Regions from separate parts of the Homo sapiens genome. Here region 2 is linked to region 1. Evidence: fine-mapped expression QTL. Tissue or cell type: whole blood. Region 1 holds a variant in brackets; the other region holds the start of a gene. All regions are shown on one strand. Distances are from middle to middle.

Region 1 (2,900 bases):
GAGTGTAGGGGCAGGTGCCTATAATCCCAGCTACTTGGGAGACTGAGGCACGAGAATCGCTTGAACCCAGGAAGCGGAGGTTGCAGTGAGCCGAGATTGCACCATTGCACTCCAGCCTGGGCAACAAGAGCAAAACTCTGTCTCAAAAAAAAAAAAAAAAAAAAAACCCAGCCAAATGAGTATTGTCTCCTCCAAAGTAGTCACTCTGCCTCACAGAGTGACTTATTTCAAAGATGACCTGATTTCAAAGATGCCAGGACTTAAGCCCAGGTTGCTCTCTCCAGCGCCCACGCTTTTCCCACTGCAGTATTCTGCCTTTGCCTTCAAGCAGTCACCTCTCGGGGAAAGAACTAACACATGTCCAGCACTTAACAGTTTGCCCCATACCGCTACCTGCCCAGCTCCTTTAGTGTTTACACCAACCTAGCAAGGTAGGTGCTATTATCCCCATTTTCCAGCCGAGGTATCAGGAAGTTTAAGGAAGTTGCCCAAGGTTGCACAGCTCAGAAGGGGCACAGCTGGGATGCAGACCCAGGTCTGTTGGACTCTACCCTGTTTTCTTCTCACTGCCTCTGGAGGAGGAACCGGGAGGGCTCCGTCGGCCTTCACCCCATTCCCTCCATATCCCCCCATCCTCCACACGTACCTGTTAGGGCAGCTAGGCCACCTTGGGCCCCACCCCAGGGCCTCACAGCTTCTCTTGCTCCCACAGCCCGTCACCACTTCCCCAGCCTCCACACCAAGGCCCAGCTGCCTTCTCCCCATGTACTCCGACACCAGGGCCAGGTCCTCAGACGACAGCACAGCAAGCTGGTGGGCACTAAGGCCCTGTCGACCACAGGCAAGGCCTTGAGGACTCTACCCACGGCTAAGGTCTTCATTTCCCTCCCACCGAACCTTGATTTCAAGGTGGCACCCAGCATCCTGAAGCCAAGAAAGGTGGGCCTCGACCTGTGACTCACACCCAGTGGACAGTGCTGAGCACGGGGTCAGGGCTGGAGGGCACAGGCAGAGGGCAGCTCCCAGGCTGGCTGGCACCCCAAGGGAAGAGCTGGTCTCCCTCAGAAGCCCCTTCCTCCACAGACTTCTGATCATCTCCCTCTTCTCCCCTCCTTTCACACCGAGGCTCCTGCTCTCCTGTGCCTCCGAGGCCCCCAGCTGGAAGTGCCTTGTTGCCTCTGCCCTTTGAAGTCGGAACAATTCCTAGCACCTGTCGGAAGGTCAAGGCCAAAGGCAAATTCAAGGCCAGACTGTGACAAACCCAGG[G/A]CTGAGGCCTGCCCCATGAAGAGGCTGAGCCCCCTGAAACCCCTGCCCCTTGTTGGTACATTCCAGAGGCGCAGGGGCCTGGGGGATATGAAGCTAGGGAAGCCCCTGCTTCGATTCCCCACTGCCCTTGTCCTGGATCCAACACCAAATAAAAAGAAACAAGTGAAGTATTTGGGGCTTGACTCCATTGCTGTTGGAGGGTCAAGAGTGGATGGGGCGAGGCCGTGTACCCCAGGGTCCACAGCAAGAGCCTGAGGCCATCAGCAGCTCCTCCGTGCAGCGAGGCCCAGAATTCCCACCTAAGGACAGACATGGGGCTTCCTATTTAGGGACTCCCCCAGCATCTCCGATCCAGGGGTGGGGAGCGTGAGCCTTCACTTTACAGATGAAGAAACTGAGTCTGAAAGAGGAGGCATGGCTTACCCAAGATCACGTGGCAGTGAGTCGACGCAGGGACATATTGCCAGAACTGCCGAGCACTGGGAGCCCCCCAACCCCAGAGAACAAGCCAAGCTAGCAGAATGACACCTACCGGGCATAGGAACGTTAATGCCATGAGACAGGGGAAGGAATTGGCCTTGCCTAAACCTCAGCCCTTCTGCAGAGGGCATGGGTCTATCCCTTCTTCAGCAAGGGGCCAAGGTCACCTAAAAATGAAACATCCAATAAGCCACACCCACCTGAAGAAAAGTGTGGCACTGCTTAGTTGTAGTGGGTTGAACTGTGGTCCCCTGAAAAGAGATGTCTACTTGGACCCTGTGAATGTGACCTTATGTGGGAAAAGAGTCTTTGTAGCTGGGTATGGTGGCTCACACCTGTTATCCCAGCACTTTGAGAGGCCAAGGCAGGAGATCGCTTGAGCCCGCAAGTTCAAGACCAGTCTGGGCAACATGGTGAAACCGTTTCTACAGAAAATTAGCTGGGTGTGGTGGCACACACCTGTAGTCCTAGCTACTCGGGAGGCCTAGGTGGGAGGATTACCTGAGCCTGGGAAGATCAAAACTGTGGTGAGCTGTGATCACGCCACTGCGCTCTGAGCCTGGGAGACAGAGTGAAACCCTAAATCAAAAAAAAAAAAAAAGGTCTTTGCAGATGTAAATAAATTTAAGATCTTAAATGAGATAATCCCAATGACCAGTGTGGTGCTTACATTCAATGGCAAGTGTCTTCATAAGAAAGGATTAAGGGCCGGTGGCTCACTCCTGTAATCCTAGAATTTTGGGAAGGCTGAAGTAGGTGAATCACCTAAGGTCAGGAGTTCGAGACCAGCCTGGCCAACATGGCGAAACCCCGTCTCTACTAAAAATACAAAAATTAGCCGGGCATGGTGACATGTGCCTGTAATCCCAGCTACTCGGGAGGCTGAGGCAGGAGAATTGCTTGAACTCCAGAGGTGGGGTTGCAGTGAGCTGAGATCGCGCCACTTCACTCCAGCCTGGGCGACAGACTGAGACTCTGTCTCAAAAAAAAAAAAAAAAAGGAAAGATAAGGCTGAGGCAGGAGGGTTGCTTGAGTCCAGGAGTTGGAGGGTAGCCTGCTTGGGCAACATACTGAGACCCTGCTTTAAAAACAGAGATTCAAAAACAAAACAACAACAAAAACATTAGCCAGGTGTGGCGGCACGTGCCTGTAAT
Region 2 (2,900 bases), 25 kb before region 1:
TCAAACTGTCCCTGTGTGGTCCTTCTGTGACTGGCAGGCAACCTGAGTGATAACAGGTGTTTAAGAGACAGGCTTTGGAGTCAGACCTGGGTTCCAGTGCTGCCTCTGCTCTGTGATTTGAGGCAAATTGTTTAACATCTTGGAGCCTTACCTCCCCTGTGACTTTTGAGGATAATATTTTGCCAGTGCTTCCAAAAAGGTTGCTTACAGTCTTAGCCTGGGGGCCAGGCATAACTGTTGTGAACTATTACATTTCTTTCGCAGTTGACTCAAATGATTGTTTTTCCATTTCCAGTTTCTGGGGAGGGTGTGCTCTGCACCTTCTTGTTACCCCCATATGCTGCCCTCGCTAAGGACCTTACCCTAGGCCCATCTGCCAGGCCCAGCAGGTCTGATCTGGCCTCACCAGGCTCCAGCCACCCTGGCTGTCTTGTAGTTCGCACAGAGGTTCTTACCCTTCTCAGGGCTGTTGCTGGGACTGTCCCTTCCCTGAAGTGCAGTTCCTCCCCTTTCCCTGGTGACTCCTGACTCCTGGCATTTACACCTTCAGCTTAAATGCGCCACTTTATCTAAAATGCGCCCCCTTCCTGGTTTCACCTCTGCTTGTTCATTGCCCTTATTATACCTGTAAACTATTCTCTTCCTTTGTTACTTGCTTTTTATTCCCCTCACACTGGGCTTTTAGTAAGCTCCATGAGGTCAGGGGCCATTTGTTAGCGCCTATAAATACTGTGGAATCACTCAAACCCTAGGGCCGGTGGCACCAGGAAGTACTGGATAAGGAACCGCAACACTAACTAACTGGGGCTCAGTGCTCTCTTCCGCCTTCAGTGCCCTGCTCATCAAGGGTCTGGGTGAGGCCCCAGGTCATAAGGAAGCCCTCGCTCGACTGCCCCGGGGCCCATCGCAGCCCCCAACCAGCCCCGAGCGGTCTGATGGTGCCCAGGGAATGGTTTCCAAGGCAATAGCAAACGGGGCGGGGCTTGGAACGGAGGACAAGGCTCGAGCCTAGGCAGGAACTTCCCGGGAGAGGAGGCGGCGACGCGGAGGGGCGCGGGATCAGGGGCCCTGGGAGGGCGAGCGCGGCGAGGGGCGCATGCAGGGCCCCGACGCGCCACTGCTCCTGAGCGCGAGGGAGCTGGGGCCCGGGCGCCGGGGCTCGGCCTCCTGGTACCGCCAGGAGGGCGGCGCGGTGTGCAACTGGCTGCGGAAGCCGCAGCCGCTCGAGCCACGCACCAGTTTCCCCTCGGCGCGCCGCTCCGAGTTCCGTCCACCCAGGAGGCTGCCATGGGCCGGCCCTGCCTCCGCCCAGTCCGAGGAGGGTCACGCAGGCGGCAGATGCCAGGCGGGCAGCCCCGCCCCTGCGCGCCGCCTCAGCGGCGCCTTCAAGACGCTGGTCCCAGGCACCCACGCCCAGGGCGCCTCGGATACCCACCCCCTCGGCCCCCCGCACACCCCGGTCCTCGACCCCTCTCCGCAGGATGGTGAGGCCCGTGCGGCCCGCTCGCTCTGGCCTACAGCGGCTGCGAGGACGACAAGACGCTGGGGTGGAGGGACTGGGGGTCGGGAGAAGAGCGGCTGAGGGTGGGCATCTGGATGAAGGCAGGAGGAAGAAAAGAGGCGTGGCTATGGGCGGCCAGAAAAGATCCTAGGCCGAGACCCTAGGCCCAGCCTCAGTGTACCCCGCCCCTATTCCGCATCTTTCTGCAGGTTTCCCGGTCCTCTGGCGAGGATCCTCCAAGGCGTCTCACATGAACCGGCTCAGAAACGCCAAAATCTACGTGGAGAGAGCTGTCAAGGTCAGAGGAGGGGCAGGGGCGCTTAGAAAGGGCCCTGGGAGCGGCTCAGCCTGTCTCCCTGCGCTGTTTTCTTATATCCTTAAAAAACAAAAGCAAAAGAAAAAACAATAGCAAAAATCCTCAACCACCACACCCATCTTCAACTACCTCCCCGTTTACCCCTTCAGCACCAAACTTCTGGGCTCCCTCCACTCTGGTTCCCTGCGATGTCCCACTCTAATCAAGGTGCCTGGTGAGTTCCAGGGAGCCAAACCCAGCAGTGCCTTTCGGTCTTGATCTCGGTTGGGCACCCTGTATCTTTCGACACCGCTGCCCCACACACCCTTCCTCTTGGCTGTCTGACTGCACGCTCCTAGTTTTCCTTTCTCCCTCTTTGGCTGCTGCTTTTCAGCGGCCTTTAAAGGTTCCTCAGCCATTAGTGGCCCCCTGGCCCCTTCCCCAGGTCTGTCTCCTTTGGCTGTGTCCTTGGCTGAGTCCAGTCAGTGTGCTGCACCCTCTCCGTGCCCCTTCCAGCCCAGCCTCGAACTCCACATCCCGTAGATCTAGCCCCTACCTGTCATCTACACCCAGAAAACTTAACAAGCATTTCAAATTCATGTCCCAAACCAGACTTTGATCTTCCTGCCCAAACCTGTCGTCCTCCCCAGTCTCCAGTCTTTCCCATCTCTCAGTTCCTCACGCCAGAAATCTCATCTTTCTGTTTCTTCACCCACAGGTCTAATTCCATCAGCAAAACCACTTGTCATCTCCACCTCCAAAACGATTCTCAACTCTAGCACCTTCTCCCGTCTGTGTTGTAACCACCTTCATTTTAGTAATTGTGATTTCTCTCCTAGGCAAACTATGACAGCCTCCTAGCTGGTCTACCTCCATCCTGTCCCCTCATCTTTTTGTAATACAGCAGCAAGCCAAGCTTAGAAAGATTCCCTCAGTTAGCCTTTTTTGCTCATGACACTCTTAGTATGAAATCCAAGTCCGTTCCAAGGCCTGCAGGGCCTTCCACAGTCTGGCCACTGCCTACCTCCTCTGGGGCTTTCCCCATCATTTTCCATGTTCCACTCACTCTGGTCTCCCTTCAGTTCCTTCTGACCTCTCTCCAGC

What was found.
Region 2: it holds the start of TTLL3, and the variant in region 1 is fine-mapped to the expression of TTLL3 in whole blood (TOPMed, PIP 0.92).

What each region holds. Positions count from the first base shown.
Region 1 is chr3:9,833,969-9,836,868 of GRCh38, forward strand. ARPC4-TTLL3 (ARPC4-TTLL3 readthrough) reads left to right here. Exons shown (of 12, transcript NM_001198793.1): 12 at 713-2,388. The coding sequence ends at 853. TTLL3 (tubulin tyrosine ligase like 3) reads left to right here. Exons shown (of 14, transcript NM_001387446.1): 13 at 713-939; 14 at 1,126-2,397. The coding sequence ends at 1,521. Among named protein-coding and RNA genes, the nearest start is that of RPUSD3, 8.6 kb to the right of the region's middle. RefSeq lists an enhancer at 1,111-1,610. The variant G/A (reference allele first, on the strand shown) is at 1,267.
Region 2 is chr3:9,808,911-9,811,810 of GRCh38, forward strand. TTLL3 (tubulin tyrosine ligase like 3) reads left to right here and starts at 1,352. Exons shown (of 14, transcript NM_001387446.1): 1 at 1,352-1,484; 2 at 1,711-1,799. The coding sequence starts at 1,752. All of the region lies in intron 4 of ARPC4-TTLL3 (ARPC4-TTLL3 readthrough), which reads left to right. RefSeq lists an enhancer at 424-573 and a silencer at 1,054-1,533.